Linked DNA regions of Homo sapiens: region 2 is reported to be linked to region 1. Evidence: microRNA targets listed by miRTarBase, many of them from high-throughput screens and not tested one by one. Region 1 holds a microRNA gene; the other region holds the end of a gene's coding sequence.

The links. The annotated mature microRNA hsa-miR-626 reads AGCUGUCUGAAAAUGUCUU and lies in region 1 at 2,866-2,884, shown strand. An mRNA with a match to its seed (bases 2 to 7 or 8) in the 3' UTR can be bound and repressed. Matches are read on the target gene's strand: a 7mer-m8 pairs with bases 2 to 8, a 7mer-A1 pairs with bases 2 to 7 and ends in A, and an 8mer does both.
Region 2: the mRNA of CDK2AP1 is a reported target of hsa-miR-626. Seed matches in the 3' UTR shown: 7mer-A1 at 596-602.

Annotation. Positions count from the first base shown.
Region 1 is chr15:41,688,780-41,693,504 of GRCh38, forward strand. It overlaps MIR626 (microRNA 626), which reads left to right and starts at 2,806; the gene lies at 2,806-2,899. The region is part of intron 2 of MGA (MAX dimerization protein MGA); the gene reads left to right.
Region 2 is chr12:123,258,926-123,261,925 of GRCh38, reverse strand. CDK2AP1 (cyclin dependent kinase 2 associated protein 1) reads left to right here. Exons shown (of 4, transcript NM_004642.4): 4 at 123-950. The coding sequence ends at 190. Among named protein-coding and RNA genes, the nearest start is that of CDK2AP1, 11 kb to the left of the region's middle.

The DNA of each region.
Region 1 (4,725 bases):
GTAGATTGGCTGGCTTAAGCAACAGAAGTTTTATTTTTTTCACAGTTCTGGAGGCTAGAAAGTCCAAGATCAAAGTTCTGGCAGGGTTTGGTTTCTCATGTCTCATCTTGGCTTGTATACATATATAGCTGCTTTCTTATTATGTCCACACATGGGGGGAGCGGGGGATGTCTCTCTTCCTCTTCTTATAAGCCCACCATCCTGTTGGATTAGAGTCCTACCCTTAAAACCTCTTTTAACCCTAATTTTCTCCTAAAGCCCTGTTTGGGCTTCCACATACAAATTTGGTGGGGGACACAATTCAGTATATAGCAGTGTTATATGGATTACAATGTGCATCCTTAATTTATTGAATATAATTTGAATAATGAACTGCTAATGCACTTATATTTGATGTCCTTCTATGTGATATAAGCCTCTAAACCTTGTTACTTTATTTGCTTTAAACAGTCAGTAGTTGGTGTGTACCCTCTCCCTCTCTCTGTGGCTCGCTCTCATCCTCTCTTGCCTTCCCTTACCCTCTCTCCCTCTTCCTTTCTCTCCCTACCTCTCTCCCTCTCTTCTCCCTCCTCCTTCCTCCCTTCCTTTCTCCCTTTCTCCTTCTCTCCTTTTCTTTCTCTCTCCCTCTCTTTCTCCTCTTTCCCTCTCTCCTTCTCTCCTTAAAAATAAAAAAAGTCAGTAGTCATTTAAATAATATAAGAAAAGTCTTTTATATTTACGTATTTATTTATTTGTTTTCATCTGTTTCTGGATCTGTGTTTATTTTGGTTCATTTTCTTTTTCTTTTTTTTTTTTCTTTTTTTTGAGATAGAGTCTCACTCTGTCACCCAGGCTGGAGTGCAGTGATGTGATCTCAGCTCACTGCAACCTCTGCCTACCAGGTTCAGGTGATTTTCCTGCTTTAGCCTCCTGAGTAGCTGGGACTACAGGTATGCACCACCACACCCGACTAATTTTTGTATTTTTAGTAGAGACAGGGTTTTGCCATGTAGGCCAGGCTGGTCTTGAACTCCTGGCCTCAAGTGATCTGTCCACCTCAGCCTCAGCCACCACACCTGGCCCATATTGTTTCATTTTCTAACAGTCTGAAGAACTTCCTTTAATAGTTATTTTTTAAAAACTTTAAAAATTGAGATATAATTCACATACAATAAAATCTACATAAAATTCACCTACCAACTGAAAGTGTAGAGTTCAATGGTTTTTAATATATTCACAGGATTGCACAACCGTTACTTCAGTGCTGCAGTCAGTTTTAGGACATTACCAGCACCCCAGAAAGAAAACCCATTAAAAGTAACTTCCCATTTTCCCTCAACCACTCCCCAGCTCCACCCAATCCAACACAACCACCTGTCTCTGTCTCTGTAGATTTGCCTATTTTGGATATTTTATATAAATGGAATCATTTAATATGTGGTCTTTTGTGCCTGGCTTGTTTTACTTAGCTTGATGTTTTTAAGGTTCATCCATGTGTAGCATGTATCTGTACTTCGTTTCTTTTTATTGTCAAATAATATTGTGTGGACATTACCACATTTTTTTTATTCATCAGTTGGACAGTAAGGTTTTTAGTTTTTGGCTGTTACGAATAATGTTGCTGTGAACATTTGTATACAAGTCTTTGCGTGAACACAGTTTTTTGGTGTTGAAAAGACCATTCTTTCCTCTCTTGAATTGTCTTGGCACCTTGGCAATTGAATCAGTTGACATAAATGTGGGCATTTATTTCTGGACTCTCAATTCTGTTAGTTGATCTGTATATCTAGTCTTAATGTCAATATCACACTGTTGACTGGGCACGGTGGATCATGCTTAAAATCTCAGCACTTTGGGAGGCCAAGGCAGTAGGATAGCTTGAGCCCAGGAGTTTGAGACCAGCCTGGTCAACATGGTGAAACCCTGTCTCTACTAAAGAGAACCTGTCTCTACAAAAAAATAAAAATAATAGCTGAGTGGTGTGGTGGTATGTGTCTGTAGTCCCAGCTACTCGAGAGGCTAAAGTGGGAGGATCACTTGTTTCCAGGAATTTGAGGTTGCAGTGAGGTATGATTGCACCATTGCACTCTAGCCTAGGTGACACAGTGGGACCTTGTCTCAAAACCAAACCAAACTAATAGACACACTGTCTTAATTACTGTAGCTTTGTACTAAGCTGAAACCTGGAAGTGTGAGTCCTCTGAGAACTTTGTTTCTAATTTTCAAGATTGCTTTGTTTTTTTTTTTTTTTTTTGGTGGCTCCCTTGCATTTTCTTGTGAATTTTAGGGTCAGTTTGTCCCTTTCTGAAAAAAAAAATCACAGATGGAGTTTTGGTAGATACTGCATTGAATTTGTAGATCACTTTAGGGATTATTGCTGTTTTACCAATATGAAATATTTTTTGTCCATAAACGTGGGATATTTTTCTATTTATTTTGGTCTTTAATTTGTTTCAACAGTGTTTTATAGTTTTCCATGTATAAGTCTTAAACTTCTTTTGTTAAATTTATTCCTAAATATTTTATTCTTGTTGATGCTATTGTAAAATGGAATTACTTCCTCATTTCACTTTTGACATTCATTGCTAGTTTGTAGAAAAACAATTTGTGTGTGTGTGTGTCTTGGATCCTGGAATCTTGCTAAACTGATTTATTAGTTCTAATAGTTTTTTAGTGGATTCTTTAGTATTTTCCATATACAAGATCATTTACCTGTGAATAGAGATAGTTTTGCTTTTTCCTCTACAATCTGGATGCCTTTTATTTCTTTTTCTTGCCTAATCATCCTGATAGAATCTCTAGTACAAGTAAGTAGACGTGGCAAGAACTGATATATTTGTCTTATTTGAGAGCTGAGGAGTATTTTTATGCAATCTGAATGATCTCAGCTGTCTGAAAATGTCTTCAATTTTAAAGGCTTCTTTTGGTAGGTATAGAACATTAGTTTTTCTTTCAACACTTCATGATTGGCGGTAAAGTATATTGTCTTCTGACTTACATAGTTTCCATTGAGTCACTAGTCAGTCTGTTGTTCTCTTTGTTGTTCCTCCAGTGTAATGTCTGTTTTTCCCTCTGCTGCTTTCAGTATTTTTCTCTTCATCTTTCATTTTCAGCAGCCTGACCTTGATGTGCCTAGATATGACTTTTTTTTTTTCCTTCTATTCGTCCCCATTGTTGCTTACTGAGCTTCTTGGATCTGTGGGTTAAAATCTTTTGCTTTTGGAAGATTTTTGTTCATTTTCTCTTCAAGTATTTCTTCACTTTGTTTCTCTTGTCTTTTTGGCAGGGCAGTTACTAGTATGTTAGATCATTTTATGTTGTCCCAGAGATCTCTGACACTTTTTTGTTTTGTTTTGTTTTGTTTGTTTCTCTGTCCTTCAGTCTAGGTGATTTCAAGTGGCTTCCTATTTTAGTAAATTTCAGCTCACCTCTCGTTTCAGCTGTGTCAAGGGAGGAGTGGTTGGTCTCCTATCCCTGGCAGGACCTTAGGACCTAAGCATTGGTAGACTACATGTTCTCTTATTTCCAGGCCAGCCTTTCTGCGGCACTGCTGTTTGTTCTGCAGAAGTCCTCTGGAGGGGGTGGTAATTGGACAGCAGTGAGGACTAGTTTCCTATTTGGGGTCCTCGAGATTCTGCCCATGCTCGGGCATTAAAAGTTGGTTTCTCTGTGTTTTTGCAAAGATCCTTTGCCTATAGTTGCTTTTTTCTCTCCTTACTGTATCTTCACACAGTGCAAATGCTGCTTAGGGTTGAAAGCAGTAGCTATCTCCGGTCACCTAGAGAAGGCTGATCTTCTTCTGTAATTCACTTCATTTAGGCTTATTTATGTCTAGAGGTCTTCAGTATCTTGTAAGAAAAATAATTTAGTGTTTTCTCATGGTTATGGCAAAAGTGATGATATTTTGTGATCTTCCACATTCTAACTGGAGGTGGAAATCTTCCATTGGAGGATTTCCTTTTTCTTTTTTTGAGACGGAGTCTCACTCTGTCACCCAGGCTGGAGTGCAGTGGTGCGATCTTGGCTCACTGCAACCTCTGCCTCCTGGTTTCAAGCGATTTTCCAGCCTCAGCCTCCCGAGTAGCTGGGATTACAGGTGTGTGCCACTGCATCCAGCTAATGTTTTGTATTTTTAGTAGAGACGGGGTTTTACCATGTTGAACTCCTGACCTCAGGTAGTCCACCTGCATCAGCCTCCCAAAGTGCTAGGATTATAGGCGTGAGCCACTGCGCCCAGCCAATTTTTTAAAAAATATTTTAGTACAGATGAGGTTTCACCATGTTGCCCCCAGAGTGGTCTCAAACTCCTGAGCTCAGGCAGTCTGCCTGCCTCGGCCTCCCAAAGTGTTAGGATTACAGGCACGAGCCACCACACCCGGCTTCTATTGGAGGATTTTCTTTTTTTTATTATTATTATACTTGAAGTTTTAGGGTACATGTGCACAATGTGCAGGTTAGTTACATATGTATACATGTGCCATGCTGGTGCACTGCACCCACTAACTCGTCATCTAGCATTAGGTATATCTCCCAATGCTATCCCTCCCCCCTCCCCCCACCCCACAACAGTCCCCAAAGTGTGATGTTCCCCTTTCTGTGTCCATGCGTTCTCATTGTTCAATTCCCACCTATGAGTGAGAATATGCGGTGTTTGGTTTTTCGTTCTTGTGATAGTTTACTGAGAATGATGATGGAGGATTTTCAAGTAAGGTTAAAATCTTAAGTAGAAATTGTGCAAGGAACAAG
Region 2 (3,000 bases), not on the chromosome of region 1:
TCTTTATGTCTGAGGGTTTTGTGGACAGGCTGTGGAAGGATGGATCCTCTTGCTGTTTCAGAATGGGCTTTGCTGGCTGGTCCTGTGCACTTGCTGACCTCAGGTCTCTGCCTCTGTTTCAGGCATCATTCACGCTAGAGGACTGGTTCGGGAGTGCTTGGCAGAAACGGAACGGAATGCCAGATCCTAGCTGCCTTGTTGGTTTTGAAGGATTTCCATCTTTTTACAAGATGAGAAGTTACAGTTCATCTCCCCTGTTCAGATGAAACCCTTGTTTTCAAAATGGTTACAGTTTCGTTTTTCCTCCCATGGTTCACTTGGCTCTGAACCTACAGTCTCAAAGATTGAGAAAAGATTTTGCAGTTAATTAGGATTTGCATTTTAAGTAGTTAGGAACTGCCCAGGTTTTTTTTGTTTTTTAAGCATTGATTTAAAAGATGCACGGAAAGTTATCTTACAGCAAACTGTAGTTTGCCTCCAAGACACCATTGTCTCCCTTTAATCTTCTCTTTTGTATACATTTGTTACCCATGGTGTTCTTTGTTCCTTTTCATAAGCTAATACCACTGTAGGGATTTTGTTTTGAACGCATATTGACAGCACGCTTTACTTAGTAGCCGGTTCCCATTTGCCATACAATGTAGGTTCTGCTTAATGTAACTTCTTTTTTGCTTAAGCATTTGCATGACTATTAGTGCTTCAAAGTCAATTTTTAAAAATGCACAAGTTATAAATACAGAAGAAAGAGCAACCCACCAAACCTAACAAGGACCCCCGAACACTTTCATACTAAGACTGTAAGTAGATCTCAGTTCTGCGTTTATTGTAAGTTGATAAAAACATCTGGAAGAAAATGACTAAAACTGTTTGCATCTTTGTATGTATTTATTACTTGATGTAATAAAGCTTATTTTCATTAACAATTTGTATTAAAATGTGGGTTCCTTGAATTCTTACGTGCTGTTTTATTTTTTTGAGACAGGGTCTTGTTTTGCCACCCAGGCTGGAGTGCAGTAATATAATCTTGGCTCACCGCAGCCTCAACCTCCTGGGCTCAAGCAATCCTCCCATCTCAGCCTCCCTAGTGGCTGGAACTACAGGTGTGTGCCACTATGCCTGAATAATTTTTAAAAGACTTTTTGTATTGAATGAATGGGTGTGTGATGGAAAAAAAATTTTTTTTGCAGAGATGAGGTCTCACTATGTTGCCTAGGCTGGATCCTGGGCTCAAGTGATCCTTCCACCTTAGCCTCTCAAAGTACTGGGATTATAGGTGTGAGCTACCACGCCTGGTGTAAAGAAGTGCTATTTTAAATAATCTCTCATGAAAGTGTTTGAAATGCTTGTTCCCCGGTGCCGTGAAGAAATAGCACTTGAACATAAATTTAATTTACTCAGCAAGGCCATTTTTACTTCCCGCAGAAAGGGTACATTCGCCAGCAGTTTTGCCACGAGAGTACACCGAACAAAGAGACAGGGTCATTTGTAACCTGATGCGTCCACCCTACTGCTGTGTCCGGTTTCCATTGGCTGGAACGGGACCTCATATTCTGTATTTGTCCTGATTGGGAAGCAACTTAAAACTTTTTAAAAGAGGCGAAGGCAGAAGAGAACAAAGGAAGGAGAAAGTAACTTGTGGAATGGTGAGAAAGGTAAACACTTTTAAATAAGGAAGAGGAACAGGCTATGACCTAATGCTTGCTCCGACCAGTGTAAGCATGCCAGGACAAATATTTAGGCTAAATTGTGGGAGCTAAGAACATAAAGTACATTGATTTCTTTACCACGGCTAGCAGATAATTAGGAATGTTAGCACAGGTCTTTGAATAAATTTTGCTTCGAAGAGAAGTTACCGTTTATTCCAAATTAAATGGGGAGGAAAGTCTTTGGAGAGGAACCTCTACTTTACCTTTTACAAGAGGTAGGAGATGCCTGTTCAAACTGTATTTTCCCATCTGACACGGAAACATTTTGGTGATATCATTAGCACAGTTGGCTGGGGAAAGAATGTGTTTGCTAAGTCAGAGGTAGGGATAAAGTGAAGTTGCATTATGGGTGTATTTTAAGTGCAGCAAACTTAAGTGTATGCTAGGAAAAAAAAATAGCAGCAGCAGTTTTTAAAAAAAAAATTTTTTTTTTTTTAGATGGAATCTCCCTCTGTTGCCTAGGCTAGAGTGCAGTGGCTTGATGTTGGTTCACTGCAATCTCTGCCTCCCAGGTTCAAGCGATTTTCCCAGCTTAGCCTCCCGAGTAGCTGGATTACAGGAGCGTGCCACCACACCCAGCTAATTTTTGTATTTTTAGTAGAGATGGGATTTTACCATGTTGGTCAGGCTGGTCTCCAACTTCTGACCTCAGGTGACCCAGCCGCCTTGGCCTCCCAAAGTGCTGGGTTTACAGGCGTGAGCCACCACGCCCGGCCAGAAGCAGTATTATTGAGTTGGCCTGTTACCCCATGGTTAGGCCATTCTCAGTTCGTAGGTGCTTATCCTGTGGGCTTTTGGTGGGTGCTACAGGAATCTTTTTCATAAAGTACGGCTCCTAACTTCAAGCTACTTCATATGGTGCTCACTGGAAGAATTATCTGCTCTGGTGCCAGGGAAAAAATGGGCTGCACTGGATGTGTTGAGAGTCCACGTGGTGGTCTCTGACAGTGCCTCCCAAAGGGATTTTAATTCTTACTCTATACCTTAGGCCCTAAATACCTGCAATGAGAATTTGCTTTGCTGAGCAGTAGACAAAGACAAATGAGAGAGACTTGTCTTTCTTTGATGCAGGCATGAGGCGAATTCTCAGCCATGACAAGGCTGAAGGCCAGCAGGAACAGGCTCTAGCGAAATGGGTGCTGTGTCCCCTTCCTGCATGTGGCAGAAAGTTGCAAAGGTATGAGAGAGGAGACAAACGGAAACCATTCTCCCTTATCTCCAGCTCCAAATTTCCCCTCCCACTCTTACTGGTTTCTTAGGTGTTGTTCTAGAGCCTTTATTTTCTACAGGGCGT